Linked DNA regions of Homo sapiens. The protein of the gene in region 4 purifies or fractionates together with the protein of the main gene of each other region. This does not show direct contact. Each region holds a gene or a part of one and is shown on either strand. Other genes may lie near its edges.

Region 1 (3,820 bases), on a different chromosome or scaffold from region 4:
CTGCTCAGTGGGCTGCATGTCAGGTTGCAAAGTAATTTCAGGACCCCCTAAAATGAAGAGGCCATAGTTATTGAATGGTGATTTAACTTGGTACAGCTCACTATCATCTTGCTGCTTTCAGACTACTACAAAGTACCAAAAGAAATGAAGCTCTATCCGTTCCAGGTGATGTACTACAACTTGACAAACAAACTAGACAATTCAGGTCCCAAAATATCTTATTTGGCCAAACACATTACTTGAAAATGTAAACGAATTCCTCAGATATTTACCACATCTCCACTATGAGCTCTACGCAATGTTTAATATATTAAAAATCCAAAGCAAAATCTCTAATTCTAACAGAATTTTAAAATTAGGTCTTCATTAACACTAACACTCAATGATATGAAAGCTACATTTATGCCAATGAATTAGCCCTGGCTATAATATTCCATTCAGCACAATCAGCTAAAGCTTATCCATAAAACTAAGATGCACAGGCAAAATCGGCAGCATTGGGAGGGCACTGCTCCTATGTCCTTCTGATTGCCTCCATAAAGCCCACCCTCATCAACTGTTCCACAGCAAGCCCACCAATATGTACTGAAGCTCAATAAGCCAGGCACTGTGCCAGACTCTGAAGACTGAGATGTAAATACCACACAGAGCTTGTGGTTTAAAGCATCTGTGAAACCATTCTCTCTCCAGTGTAGTTAGACGCACTGACTTCACATAAGCCCAGGAGATACCTGAGAAGTTGTAATTTATGAATGAAAGCATCAATGATCAATCCAAGTCCTCTTTCCTAAATGCCATGCCACTCACATGAATGGCAAAAACAACAGGGAATTACATAGCTTAGTACCCACTGTGTGAGTGATCCAACCCAAACCTCCAGAGAAGAGTACTTACTGGTCACGTGGAAGGAGATCACCCTCTCTCCTCTCCCGACTTTGTTGACCGCTTCACATTTGTACAAAGCTGACACATTTGCCGCTTGGATAACAAGGGTACTTACAGTCTGTGCGGGGAAAAAACAAATCCCAGGCCATAAACAACGCGGCTGTTTGTGCACAAGCACTCAGTCCAGCAGTCTCCACAATCACTCCAACCTGCCTATGCCATTCCCACTTCTGCAGCGGTTGGACACGCTCAAATTTATGCAATTGCAGGTTGAGTATCCCTTACTCAAAACGCTTGGGACCAAAAGTGGTTTGGATTTTGGATTTTTTTTTTTGGATTTTGGAATATTTGCATTGTATACTTACCAGTTGAGCATCCCTAATCTGAAAATCCAAAATGCTCCAACGAGCGTTTCCTTTGAGCACCATGTCGGCACTCAAAAAGGTTCAGAATCTGGAGCATTTTGGATTTGGGGTTTTTAGGTTTGGGATATTTACTCAATTTGTATAATTATGCTGCTGTGGAGCTCACACATTATATAAAAAGGGCTTTGGAAGCCATGAAACTAATGATGTGTTTTAATATGATATGATACACATTTTTTCATTCTCATGTTTATAAAATCAGAATCACCCTACACAGATGCATAGATTTAATGTCATAGATGTTTTTATTTTTCTCTGATAAGCTATTAATAAGTTAATGGTACTGCTAAAAGTCAATGGTATTTTCAAAGTGACTTAATACGCTCTATTTAATCATCCAGACTATTTGATTATTAATCTCCAATATGCCTCACATATTATTGTACCATCCTTCCATTAAAGAGAGAGAGATTTTCAAATTTTAAAACTTCAAACTCACTTTGTTTTTTCCTTCAATTAGAGCAAATTGATTTTTATTAACTTCAATTTTATTTCCTCCCTGGAAGTCCTCCACACTTCTCCATTCTTCACAAGGGTATGGGTTTGTCACTGAGACAGCTTGGCTATAAGAAAGAGATAACAGCGCATATTATGATTTAATTTTTCTTTAATTAGAGTCAAGAGTAAGGAAAAGATTCAGACTTTGGTTATTCTGTTCTTAGAAATAACTTCCAACGCAGCCTACCATGGTACAAGACTTGGCGCCAATTAAAAATAGGCATTGACAATGAAGGAAAAGGTTCTAGGTAGATTCATTCAGGATACAGGAGGGAAGCAGCTATTCTGGGAATAAACCTTCATTCATAAATTGGATCGACAAGACAATTCAAGTTAATTTAGTTCAAAGGAAGGCAAGGAAACTTAGAAGCCACTGGGCTCCTTAAAGTAATTTCTCTGGGACCATGGTCTCTGTGAAGGAAATGATCAGCAGCTGAGGAAGAAGCTCATAGTGGCCATTTCAAAAACAACAACAGGAAGTGGACTGCTTAGGGTGGTGGTGGGTTGGCTGCTGTTGTTGTGTTTTTCCCTAAGGATGTCTGGACTTGTGTCAGAGCATGATAAGCTGGGCCTGAGACCCTGAGGACTGGGGCTGGGTCTATCACTGCCTCTCATCTATCAGCATTTCCTCTGAGAGATGGATCTTCACACACACAAGAAGGAGGGATGTGGTATTCACCAGCCGATTGGTATCGGGAGAAAAACCAAAGACTGGCAATTAGCAAACTGAGCAAATAGCCTGTGTTTGGAGAAGTGTACCTCACGGCTAACCTAACAAGGCTGAGCTTAGCTAACCCCAAAGGAGGATACTCCAAGCAAAGACATCCCCTAAAATGTAAGACACAGAGAAAGATGGATGGAGATTCAGGCTACCTCTTGAGAGAAAACTTTTTTTGGTTTAGGCTTCTCCATTTAGGATGGAGTCATATCATAGCTCAGCTGTAAGAAATGCAAGATGGCAGGAAAGCAAAGAGCATGTGGCCTTACTCACCTGGGCTCGTTGGCGCACTCTTCCTCCAACTGCCAATACCAGTGGATGTGATGCGGGGGAGGAATGGCATAGACCGTACATGTCAGCGTTTGAGTGGTGCCGTACTGGTAGGAATCCACAGGAGAGATTAGAGATTTCTCACCAATCTGGGGTGGGACTGAAGATGGGAAAAACAACTTTTGAATTGTCAGTCAGCTTTGAAGAATGGGAAATAGAGGATTTTAGCAACTAAAGCTGACTTTCTTTAAGCATATGATTTTGCTTCCACTTTCTTTTTCGAAGAACACCTAGATGTGGAAACAAGAGACCTGAGTTCTAGTGATACTCATAAAAATAACAACTAGCCAGGCATGGGGGCTTATGCCTGTAATCTCAGTATTTTGGGACGCCAAGGTAGGTGGATCGCTTAAGCCCAGGAGATCAAGACCAGCCTGGGCCACATGGTGAGACCCCATCTCTACCAAAAAAAAAAAAAAGGAATAAAGTAACGAAATAAAATAAAAATGACAATAAGCTAATAATAATAATAAACTAACAAGCTGAATGACTTTATGGAAGTGTTGAAATCCTGTGCCTCTCATCTGTATTACAGAGATAGTTCTCTCTGTCCTCTCAAGTTTAGGAGATCAGGGAAAGGCTACAGAAAACAGCTGAAATAGCACAGTAAATACATTTATTATGTGCCAAGCATTGTTTGAAGTGCTTTGCATGAATTCATTCACTTAATCCTCACAACCACTATTACTGTCCACAGCTTTATACGTGAGAAAAAAATGAAACAGAAAAAAATGACTCGCCCAAGGTCACTCAGTTAACGAACGGCAAAACCTGGAACAAACCTAGACACTCTGACTTCTGAACCCAAACACGTAAACCACCTCATGTTAAAGGAAGGTGTAAATCTTTAGAGAATGCATTCCTGCCACCATCATCTGAGTTTTTCATTCTCTCTCCCTCTTCCTCCCTCCCTCCCTCTCCACTCCCTTTCCCTCTTCCCCTTTCTTCCTTCTCCCTTCTCTCA
Region 2 (3,820 bases), on a different chromosome or scaffold from region 4:
GGGGAGCAGGTTGCTCTTGTGCCCCGAATCCCTGCCCTTAGTGCCTATACAGGGTTCCCGACTTCACTGTTTGCTCCTCGGACGTTACCAGACAGTGAGTGGCCCCAGCCCCCTCTCTGCACTCAGTAAACATGAGTTGCTGCCGGTGGGGTGGCTTCACCCATGCACCAGGTGGGCAGGAGTTCTGGGTGTCATGTGGTGTGGGGAGCTGGAGGCCTGAGAACCAGGGACCCCTCCCTCAGCCAGATCGCCAAGGGTCTTGGGACCAGCAGGACATTCACACATCTCTCTAGGAGGGTCTGGGCATGGAAGGATGCCCAGTTGTGAAGAGCACCCTCTCAGGATGGGGCACATACAGCAGGGCAGTTTCTCAGAGGCCCTCTTCCTTCAGGAAGCCTTCCTAGGATTTTGTTGTTGTTTGTTTGTTTGAGACAGGGTCTCACTCTGTCACCCAGGCCAGAGTGCAGTGGTGCTACCTCGGCTCACTGCAGTCTCGACCTCCTGGGCGCAAGTGATCATCCCACCTCAGCCTCCTGAGTACCTGGGATGACAGGTGGGCACCCTCACACCTGGCTAATTTATTTATTTTTTGTTTTTTTGTTTTTTTTTAGTAGAGATGGGGTCTCGCTATGTTGCCCAGGCTATTCTCCTGAGCTCAGGTGATCTGCCAGCCTTAGCCTCCCAAAGTGCTGGGATTACATGTGTGATCACTGCTCCCGGCCCCTTCCTATGTTTCTGGGGGTTTTGTATCCCCCTGGGCTTCAGAAGCCCTTTATACCATGGTATAATGCTAGGCTGGGTCAGCTGCTGGCAGAGGGTTCGAAGACCCCTAGGCCAGGCTCCCGACCCTGCCCTGACTTCACTCCAGAGCCACATTGCAGAATGACAGGGACCCTGTGAATGTCCGAGGGCTGGGGCTGCCTGGCAGGCTGCCAGTGCCTGGGGCTGAGCCAGGCTGGCTTATCTCTGTCTGGGGCATCTGGGATGGTGTGGCTGGTCCCTAGATCGTCCTGAGCCCTCTCCTTGCCTGGAGGCCCAGCTCAGGACAGCAGTCAGAACAGGCCCTGGGCCAGACTAGCCTTGGTGGGCCAGGAGGGACTGAACTGCTGACTGGGACCTCATGAGTCTGGGGAACCTGGGAGTGAAAACTCAGTGTGAGCCCCCCTGCTGGGACCCACCGCATGTGGCCTGGGGTATTCCTGGCCCCCGAGCCTCAGTTTCCCCATCTGTCCAGGTGTCTATAGGGATTGGACAGGTAGGTGCAGGTACTTCGAGGCCCAAAGGCCTGGCCTGACAAGGGCGCAGCAGCTTCTGCCCCGCCGGTCCCGAGCGCCCCACGGGCGAGTGCCACTCATACACAAACAGTGCTAATGAAGAACCTGATTTAAATGAAAACGTCTGAGTTAAAATTTTCCATTCCACATTTAGCTGTGGCGGACATTCTGCCCCTAAGCCACCCCTCTTGCTCGGCGGTATCTCCCTGCCAGCCCAGGCGGGACTTGGGGCCTCAGCCCGGGTGGGGCCTATGGTGGTGGTGCATGTCCCTGCCTGTGGCCCTGGAGGAGGGATTGGAACCTCGGGGCTGGGCCCCCTGGACCTGCCCTCCACCCGTAGCTTGGCTGGAGCCAGCCAGGAGGGGCTCAGAGGGACATGGCGGGCCAGACACTCCACCTCCAGCCCAGGCCCAGAGCCTGTCTTTGCCTGGCCCTCCGGCAGGCGAGCCTGGTGTGCACCATCAGGTCTGGGTGGGAGTGGAGCCTCCCCGAGCCTGGACCCAGACTACTGCCTGCTAGGCCCTGCCTGTGGGAATGCGTGTCTTTGAGTGTCCCTGAGCATCCACACATGGCCTCCCCTGTCCCCATGTGTCCTCATGCATCCTTGCATGTCCTTGTGTGTCCTCCCGTGTTCTTGCGCACCCTGAGAGTGCTTGTGTGTCCTCACACTTGCCCTATCCACAGAGGGGCAAAGGGAAGCCCAGAGAGTGGGAGGGCCGTGTCTGAGGCCCAGAGTGAGGGGCAGCCGAGCCGAGGCTGGATAGGGCTGGGTGCAGTGTGAGGAGGCATGTGTCTATGCATGCCTGTGTTCACGCGTGTTCACACATAGGTCTTGGTGGGTGAGTGATGTGCAGGCGTGTCTGCGTTCATGCATGTGCACCAGTGTGTGCACGTGTGCATGTCTGCATGCAAGTGTTCATGCATGTATATGTGTTTTGTATGCAGACATGATTGCATGTGTGCATGTGTGCCTTCTGTGCACCAGAACAGGTTGTCTGTGTGTTTATGTGTGTACATGCCTGTATATTTGTGTGTGTGCACACATACCCATGCACATGTGCCCTGGAGCATGTTTGTGTGTGTGTCCATGTCTTCACACGTGTCTGTAGGTGCCTGCGTGTGCTCCTCATCTTCTCTCCCACTGAGCCCTGAGAGCTCTGGGCCCTGGTGGGTTGGCCTGTGAGCTGGTCCCTGTTAGGCAGGATCTGACCTTGGGGACTACAGAGAGGACAGTTGCCTCACTCTGGAGGACTGGAGGAGTGGGCAGCAGCTCAGGTCCCAGTCAGAGAACCCACAACAAGCCTCCCCAACCCCTGGATTAGGGCCCATATGGGCCCTCACAGGCATGTGGCAGGTACCCGCACTGGGCAGGAGGGACCCGGTCACACTGCAGATTTCCCAAAGTAGCCCCACGGCTGCAAGGCTGCTGTCCAGCCCGCCTGGTGTGGGGGAGTCCAGGCTCAGGGAGGACACAGCAGTACCGCCTGCTTGGGCTGGCAGGGAGCTCAAGTCAGCATGGGGTTCAGGCCCCGCCTGCCTGATGGGCGAACACACCCCCAAGGCCCCCGTTAGGGCCAGGAGGCAGGCTGGCAGCCAGCGCAGGTGCAGAGGGGCCCCGAGGCTTCCATCCTGAGGTCAGCACTGGGAGGACAGAGGCTGCCTCCTTGCAGCCCGAGGGTTGACCAATGGCACTCGCCGCATCCCTTCCCAGAGCAGGCCAGCCCCACGGGCATCATGAGGGCCTGCGTTTGGTTTAATGCTCCGCTGTCAACATCTTGAAATTCTCTGTAATTTTTAAATAAGGGGCCCGCAGTTTCATTTTGCACAGACTATGTAGCCAGCCTTCCCCAGAAGGCTCGTGGAGAGCTCCACAGGCCCTGCCTCTCCCTGGGGGAGCTGCTCACCTGCCTGTGCCCATCTTGTTGGGCCGACCCTGCCTTAGGGGCCTGTGGTCCTGGCTGAATGGCGTTGCATTGGAGGCCAGGCACATGTTTGAGTGCTGCCTGTGTGCCAGGCAGGGCTGGGGAGGGTGGAAGGAAGCCTGGGGGCTGAGCCACTGGGCAGGGACAGGGAGAGCCCTCCCAGCAGAGGGAGGTGTGGCCGCAGCTGTGTCCTCACCCTGGTGTCTACCTCCACGGGCTGGGCCCTGGACAAGAGGAAGGGTAACTTGGGCTCCCAGCCCCGCCGAGGATGGCTGTCGTGGGAAGCGGAGTCTTTAAATAGCCTCTTGCTTTCCACTAAAAATAGTGAAGCTCTGCTGCCGTGGAGGTGGTTGCCGGGGCGGCGGGGCTGGCTCTTGGCCAGGCGGGCGTGGGTGCAGCAGCGTGGCCACGTGCGCTGGAGTGGTAGGCAGCGCGTGGGCCCCATCCACTGCTAGTGGCCATAGAGGTCAGGGCTGCTGTGGGGGATCCCCACTAGCCCCCCGACTATGCAGAGGGCCTGGGTGCAGGGAGGGACGCAAACCCCTGTGTTCCTGTCCCTGCTGCTTGTCACAGCAGCTGTCTCAGGGTGCGCAGGGGAGAGACAAGGAGCCTGAGGCCAGAGGG
Region 3 (3,820 bases), on a different chromosome or scaffold from region 4:
AGGAAATAGTATGCCTCTTGGCACTTCTGGATCCTCTTGCCCCTGACAAAAACCAAACCAAACCTTCTTTCTGGATAGGGTTTAGACTTATGCCATATGACTTAGTTGTTAATGTTCTTTTGCAGACCATCAGCAGAGCCTTTATGAATGGCAGTGCACTGGAACATGTGGTAGAATTCGGCTTAGATTATCCAGAAGGCATGGCAGTAGACTGGCTTGGGAAGAACTTGTACTGGGCAGACACAGGAACGAATCGAATTGAGGTGTCAAAGTTGGATGGGCAGCACCGACAAGTTTTGGTGTGGAAAGACCTAGATAGTCCCAGAGCTCTCGCGTTGGACCCTGCCGAAGGGTAAACAGCTTTACATGTGCATTCTTTGCAACTGCAGTGTACATTTCGGGGAACATGGCATAGTTACAGATGATATTCTTAATGTTTTAAATAATACGTATTAGGAATCTGAGAACTAAATGATAGATGAACTTTTAAAAACACTATTGATATTTTGCTGATTTGAATGAATAATTATTAGCTAATTTTACTCTTGTCGTAATTAACTTTAGGTGAAGAAAGAGGGGAATGGGTTAATAAATGTTACTGATGAGTATACTGATATGTTAAGTATATATACCAAGAGGTATTATCCATCTGTAGTTGCTTGCACTCCTTCCCAGTTATACTAGATTCCAAGCCTATTGAAGTAAACCCACCGAAACAATGTTGTGAGCTAAGAAAAAACTACATTTAAAAAGCTTTATTTTGGAGTATTTATTAATTCAAAATGGATAGTTTGGTTTGATCATTATTATAAACTGGCAGTAGCTTTGTTATTACAAGATAGAATAAACTGTTCACAACATGATGTTTTTCAAGGGCGAGTGTTCCTTTTTACAAGAGTCAGCAAATTTTTTAAAGCCGGCAGCTAAGAAATCTGAAATCTAAAGAAAAATTCCACTTATAAAAGAAGTCAACAGGCCGGGCGTGGTGGCTCACGCTTGTAATCCCAGCAACTTTGGGAGGCCGAGGCGTGGGCAGATCACAAGGTCAGGAGTTCGAGACCAGCCTGGCCAACATGGTGAAACCCCGTAACTACTAAAGATAAAAAAAAATTAGCCAGGCATGGTGGCATGTGTCTGTAGTCCCAGCTACTCTGGAGGCTAAAGCAGGAAAATTGTTTGAATCTGGGAGGTGGAGGTTGCAGTGAGCCGAGATCGTGCCACTGCACTCCACCCTGGGCAACAGAGCAAGACTCCATCTTGGAAAAAAAAAAAGAAGTAAACAGTGTGAACATATAAATATGTTTACTGTATTTGCTACTTAAAATAATTTCCCTGAAGTGACATTGATTCCATGATTAGCTAGTAATTCATCTAGTCAGCACTGACATATTGTGGTGATCTTTGCTCTAAACATTAGCTGCCAGACAGATAAATTTAATAGTTGGGACTAATTGGTTGCTGCTGGCAAGTATGAAATTTCTCTCACAGTTGTTTCTCTTTGGCTCTTGTGGTGTGCACATGCCTGTCAAATGACAAGTGCAAATGCATATAAAGGCAGGACACCTTCAGTTTTCAGAAAAGCATGTTCATACATTGCTACCAAGTCAGCTATCAGCTGACAGGCTGATGAGTGAATATATGTCCTCAGGTATTTCGTGAGAGCTGGCATGTGATGTGCTTTTTTAGTTCCAGTATTCAAGAGTCTCAAAAACTAGCACCTCACTAGTTTACTTGAAAGGGCATTTGGCCAAGGATTAGGTTCTAGTTCTAGCTCTGTCATCTAACTGGCTTGAAGACATTAGATAAGTTGTTCACATTTCTTGTAGTGTTTTGGGCTCTTCATCTATAAAAAGCCTATACTGTAGGATTACTGTAAGATTAAAGTGCAAAACTCAAAAATGGAAAATAACAGCAAAGTAATTATTCTAAAATTTCACAGAGATTGTTGTAGCGTAGTGTAGTGTTCATTGCCCAGTGGACACATCAAGGGGTGAGTCGTTGTTCTTACCATATAGTATGCTCCCTTGGACCATATGACCAAATACATTTTCAAGCTTTGCTTTTGACTTCAGTTAAAGGCTTAGTATTTATAATTACCTTTCATGTACTTCTGCAACTTATTTTGAGGAAGAGTTGATTACACAAGTCAAAAAGTAAGTTCAGCATATTAAAAACTCAAATTAGTTAATATTCAAAAGTATATAAAAATATTTTACTCAGAAGTGAACCAGATTCTGAGACCAGAGCTTTAAACCTTTGCTGTTTTCTTGAATGTTAATTTTACAAATGCCAGTACTGCAATAAACTGTTGGTTTATTTCCAATTCCTAGGTTTGGATGGAACAAATGTATTGGAAAGACTAAGGAAAGCTGACTCACTTCCTTTTTGGGATATGGAAAAAAATATTTAGTTTAGGGTGCCAAAATAATTGAAAGCATTGTAGCCGTGATTTTGTTTAACCCATTTCCTTGATTTGCTGTATGTTTTCTTTAAATTTATTTAGTTACTTTGCATGAATATGACTCTTTCCCCCAGATAATAAAAAATTGAAATGTTAAATATTTATTATTTTGAATTTAGATTTATGTATTGGACTGAATGGGGTGGAAAACCTAAGATAGACAGAGCTGCAATGGATGGAAGTGAACGTACTACCTTAGTTCCAAATGTGGGGCGGGCAAACGGCCTAACTATTGATTATGCTAAAAGGAGGCTTTATTGGACAGACCTGGACACCAACTTAATAGAATCTTCAAATATGCTTGGTAAGCTTTACTACTTTTTACTCAAACAGTATATTCTTTCCATGCAAATATCAGTGGCTGCTATTTATCATTGGTTAGATACTTTTAATACAACTTCATATGAATGTGTCCATTCTTCTTCTGTTCTGGAATTGTATCCTGTTTGTTATTAATAGTGATCCAGGTACTTGGATTCATCTTTTTATTATGTGAAAGTTTCATTATTATTGGACTTGTAATGAAATTTATAACTCCCTAGATACTCCTGAAATGACTTTTGTACCAGTAAAATATATATATTTCCATCTTTTCCTTCTATAGTTCAAGAAGAAAAAGTGAACTGTAGACCCTTATATAGAGAAAATAAAACCACATTTAAAGTAGACCATTTGCAAGAATTTTAGGAAACTGAGTGATTTGTAGCAGGAATATAAGTTTGAAGCATGGGGTCAGAAGATAGATTGATTTCAGAGAATTGGTCTCGTTTTAGAATTGCTTTTAAATGAATTTTTCTATTTTAAATTGCTTACAATGTAATGTTTTATATGTTAGGGCTTTTTTTTTTCTTTTTGCCAGCAAGACACTTGTATTCTCACATATTTCATCACTCTGCTTCTCCCCTGTCTACTGCCTTTCTGAAAATAGGGCTCAACCGTGAAGTTATAGCAGATGACTTGCCTCATCCTTTTGGCTTAACTCAGTACCAAGATTATATCTACTGGACGGACTGGAGCCGACGCAGCATTGAGCGTGCCAACAAAACCAGTGGCCAAAACCGCACCATCATTCAGGGCCATTTGGATTATGTGATGGACATCCTCGTCTTTCACTCATCTCGACAGTCAGGGTGGAATGAATGTGCTTCCAGCAATGGGCACTGCTCCCACCTCTGCTTGGCTGTGCCAGTTGGGGGTTTTGTTTGTGGATGCCCTGCCCACTACTCTCTTAATGCTGACAACAGGACTTGTAGTGGTAAGCTGCATTTCCCTCCAAAGCAAGCTAGAATGAGAGAAAGCAGCATTTTCAAAGTACTTTAGTGTGTGTTTTTTCTAAAGTTAAATAGTGTGGAAATCCAG
Region 4 (3,820 bases):
GGCGACCACCTCTGTCCAGCTCCAGAACGTCTTCATTGCCCCAGAAGGAAAACCCATAGCCTTCAGGTGGTCCCTCTCCATCCCTCCCTCCACCCCTGGCAACCCACAATCCACTCCGTCTCTCTGGATTTGCCCATTCTGGATGATTCACGTCGATGGAACCGTAGGCTGTGTGGCGTTCTGTGCTGGCGTCTGTCGCTGAGCGCAGTACCTCCGCGGCTGGTCCCCGTCACAGCGTGGGTCTGTGTTCATTCCTTTGCATGGCCGTGTCGTATTCTGTGGGGACAGATGTGTGTCCACCCACTGGCGACAGGTGGGTTGTGGGCCTTGCGCCCAGTCGGCCGCCCCAGAGCCCGCGTCGCAGGCAGTCTCTGGCCCGCCTTGTGCCCGGCGTGCTGACCGGGCATCCCCGTGCCCGCTCGCAGGCCATGACGCTGATGGAGTACCTCATCAAGACCGGCTCGGAGCGCGTGTCGCAGCAGTGCAAGGAGAACATGTACGCCGTGCAGACGCTGAAGGACTTCCAGTACGTGGACCGCGACGGCAAGGACCAGGGCGTGAACGTGCGTGAGAAAGCTAAGCAGCTGGTGGCCCTGCTGCGCGACGAGGACCGGCTGCGGGAAGAGCGGGCGCACGCGCTCAAGACCAAGGAAAAGCTGGCACAGACCGCCACGGGTGAGTCCCTCCCTGCGGCCCCTGACGGCCTAGAGTCTGTCCTCCGCCTACTGCGGCTCCCGGCACCCGGCCGCCCACTGCTTTCTCTCCCAGCCAGGAGGGACCGCGGCATCCCCCTTTGCTTCTCCTCACCTGGGCCCCTTGCTCTGGTCTCACTTGGGCCCTTTTTTTCCCTTAGCACCTCCCATGCAGCAGCTCTGGGACCCTTCCTGCCTCTTGCCTCGTGCCCCAGGGCAGGCCTAGAATTGGGAACTTTTATTCCGCTCCCCCATAGGCTCAGGGCCTGAGGGTGATCAGTGCTGGGGACAGGGCTCTGAGGGGACACGCACAGTGACCCCCGAGGGTGCTGTCCTTCTCTCTGCGCTGAGATGAGGGGAACATCGGAGAGGCAGAGGGGGGCCTGGAAGAGGCACAGAAGGAAGGCCAGAGCCAGGGCCTGCAGGTTGCACCAGGCATCTGGGCCTGTGTTAGGAGCCTTGACAGTGCCTTCTGGAGGTGGAGGACTCAGTCTGGTGGGTGGTGACCAGCACCGAAAACAAAACTTGAAATAGTGCATCCCACATCGTCAAGCCAAGATCTGTCCCACGAAACATTTCCAGTTATGTGATGGGTGTGTGGGTCTCGGACTGTTCCAGGAAGTGTGGTCTGTGTTGGTCGGGGGCTCACAGCCGTGAAGAGGCTAGTCCGGCTGCTCAGGACTGGGAGGGAGGCTGGAGAATGTCTGCCAGGCTCTTCTGCTCTCCAGGAAGAGTGGAGGTGCCTCAGTTAGTGGGGATACGTGGGATGGGGAGGGGCTGCTAGAGCACTGCCCTGGAGGTGGAGGTGGGTCAGCCAGGCCGGTGCAGACAGGAGGAAGGGCCTGTGGCCCTCGTGGGGTCCGGCTCGAGGGACTGGACTTGTTTGGGGAAGTCTAGGCCTTCTGTTTGGACGGGTCTCATTTGGGATCACCTTTCAGCACCCACGGGGAGACATGGGTGTGACGGGGTGTGTGCGACCCTGCCTGGGACTCCAGAGTAGGGACCCACGAGCCAGTAGATGGGCGTGAACGCAGAGAGAGAGTGAAGTGGAGGGAAGGAAGCCGGTGTGGCGTGGGAGTGCTCAGAGCCAGGGACAACAGGAGGGAGTGTAGGCGGCAGAGAGGGGCTGGTCAGCTCGAGGCAGGCAGGCAGGCAGGTGGGTGGCGGGGTTGGGGTGGACGGAGGAGGGACATTGGCAGTAGCTCGGAGGAGAGTGGGAGCCTCAGGTAAGAGGCCTGAGGGTGGGACATCCTGGCTCGGGGGTCGTCAGACTTTGTGCAAGGCCAGAGCTAATGTCCTCTGCGTTGCTGGCCACGCCTTCCCATCCTAGCTGCCTGGCCCCGTCCGCTGGCGGTTGCTGGGAAGCAGCTGCACCCCTCCGACACTCACCAAGGTCTCCGAAATTTGAATTTTATGTAGTTTTCACGTGTCTTTTTTAAGACTTTTAAGTTGTTATTTAATTTTTTAAGGGTACTCTGAATTTTCGCCCATCTTGGTGCATTCTTTTCATTTCTTCCAACCATTGAAAAATGTAAAGGCCTTTCTTAGACCTTCTCAGGCCAGCTGTGGCTGCCACTGTGGTGTGCTGGCCCCTGTCTTGGAGTGAGTTGTGTGGAGGGCTGTGGCTGGGGAGGAGGATGGGGGCAGCTAGGGAGTGAGCCCTGAGACCCTCAGTGGGCAGGGAAGGGCCTGTGGTCCCCGGGCAGCACCGAGGCTGGGTGCTCTGGTGATGGGAAGGCCCGGGTGTTGCTGGCTGGGTGCCAGTATTACCTGTGATGTGGGAGGTGGGGCCCTCAGGGCTGCTGGGCATTGGATTTAGCCACCACCAGGCTGGGGGGTTAGGGGCATGTGCAAGGTAGAGGTTGGGCAATGGGGTGTAGATTCCCAGCACTCACCTCTGAGAGTCCCTAGAGCTTAGGAGGAAGTCACAGGGGCAGGGAAGAGCAGGAGGGGCCACAGGGGTGTGGTCCTCCCTGTGCGCTGGCCTCACCTGTGCCCCACGCTGCCCTTCCATCTGCCCATCCCCTCAGAAGGCCGCTTACCCACCCAAGTCCGTCAATCCCTGCTGGTTCTCTCGTCCTTTCCTCACTCATAACCCCAGATGGTCACCCTTCGGCCCCGCTCTGCCACCCACATGCTCCCTGGAGCATCCCATGCACCCAGCCCTGCTGGGCACACCACACGGGGGCCAGCCTGGGGGCCCCTGGACCCGGTGCAGGTGGGGCCGCCAGACAGCTGCCTGCTGCGGCTCCGGGCAAGGGGAGCCAGGGCCTGCTCGTCAGGGAGAGGCCTGGGCCTGGGGAGTGGGTTGGGTGGGGACACAAGTACAGGACACAGGTGCAAGGCGGCGTCTTGGAGCTGGAGCAGACAGAACTTGCTGACCAGTGCACAGTGGTTGGGAGGGCGGGGCAGGAGAGGCAGGGTCCGCCCTGGGGCTTTGGAGGCTGGGGCAATGGCCCTGTGCTCGGCGGGCCTAGGGCCTGGTTGGAGCCTGTCCTCTGCACTGTGGAGGGGGGCAAGGGTCCACAGGCCTTGGGGGTGGAGAGAACAGTGTCAGGACAGAGTTTGAGGGTAGGCGGGGTTGCTGAGAGGATGCTGCAGTGGAGGCCGGGGATATCTCAGCAGCCTCCTGGAGGGTCCGGCCCTGCCTTCCTGTGTCCTCTCTCTCCCTTCCCCTCCTGCTCTTGGAACCAAGGGCTCCTCGCTAGCCCACTCCCTAACCCCGACTAGGCCTTGGATCCCGCTGTCTCAATGGATGCTGTTCTCCCCTCTGAATTCCAGTTGTTCCCTGCCAGAGCTACCATTCTCAACAAGCCCTGGAAACAGGCCTGGGAAACCTGGGAGGAAGGACCTCCCATCCCCCAGGGGCCCAGGGACAGACCCCAGGCACGCGGAGAGTCCTGGTGGTGGCAGGGCTCAGAGGTTGCTGGGGTTCCCCACCTGCTTATCAGACTGACTTTTGCTCTGGTCCTTCCCTGATGCCTGGCCCCTCCCGTGGGTGGGGCTGCCTGCATCCCCACCCTTCCTCCTCTGAGCACCTGGCGTCTGGTCTCCGCCTCTCAGTCCTAGTCTTGGCCTGCAGAGGTTGTAGGGTGGGGGACTTGGGGGGTGGGGTTGGACACAGAAGC

What was found.
Region 1: the proteins of EPN1 (region 4) and KDR purify together in Homo sapiens (affinity purification with western blotting; one study listed by BioGRID). This does not show direct contact.
Region 2: the proteins of EPN1 (region 4) and ZDHHC8 fractionate together in Homo sapiens (co-fractionation; one large-scale study listed by BioGRID). This does not show direct contact.
Region 3: the proteins of EPN1 (region 4) and LRP6 purify together in Homo sapiens (affinity purification with western blotting, with the first as the bait; one study listed by BioGRID). This does not show direct contact.

The regions. Positions count from the first base shown.
Region 1 is NC_000004.12:55,104,938-55,108,757, forward strand, and holds part of KDR (vascular endothelial growth factor receptor 2 precursor), read right to left. Parts: intron 2,957-3,820; coding exon 2,800-2,956; intron 1,874-2,799; coding exon 1,750-1,873; intron 1,004-1,749; coding exon 895-1,003; intron 48-894; coding exon 1-47. UniProt on the Homo sapiens protein: Tyrosine-protein kinase that acts as a cell-surface receptor for VEGFA, VEGFC and VEGFD. Plays an essential role in the regulation of angiogenesis, vascular development, vascular permeability, and embryonic hematopoiesis.
Region 2 is NC_000022.11:20,134,522-20,138,341, forward strand, and holds part of ZDHHC8 (palmitoyltransferase ZDHHC8), read left to right. Parts: intron 1-3,820. UniProt on the Homo sapiens protein: Palmitoyltransferase that catalyzes the addition of palmitate onto various protein substrates and therefore functions in several unrelated biological processes.
Region 3 is NC_000012.12:12,158,725-12,162,544, reverse strand, and holds part of LRP6 (low-density lipoprotein receptor-related protein 6 isoform b precursor), read left to right. Parts: intron 1-125; coding exon 126-352; intron 353-2,580; coding exon 2,581-2,765; intron 2,766-3,389; coding exon 3,390-3,716; intron 3,717-3,820. UniProt on the Homo sapiens protein: Component of the Wnt-Fzd-LRP5-LRP6 complex that triggers beta-catenin signaling through inducing aggregation of receptor-ligand complexes into ribosome-sized signalosomes.
Region 4 is NC_000019.10:55,684,971-55,688,790, forward strand, and holds part of EPN1 (epsin-1), read left to right. Parts: intron 1-425; coding exon 426-675; intron 676-3,820. UniProt on the Homo sapiens protein: Binds to membranes enriched in phosphatidylinositol 4,5-bisphosphate (PtdIns(4,5)P2). Modifies membrane curvature and facilitates the formation of clathrin-coated invaginations. Regulates receptor-mediated endocytosis.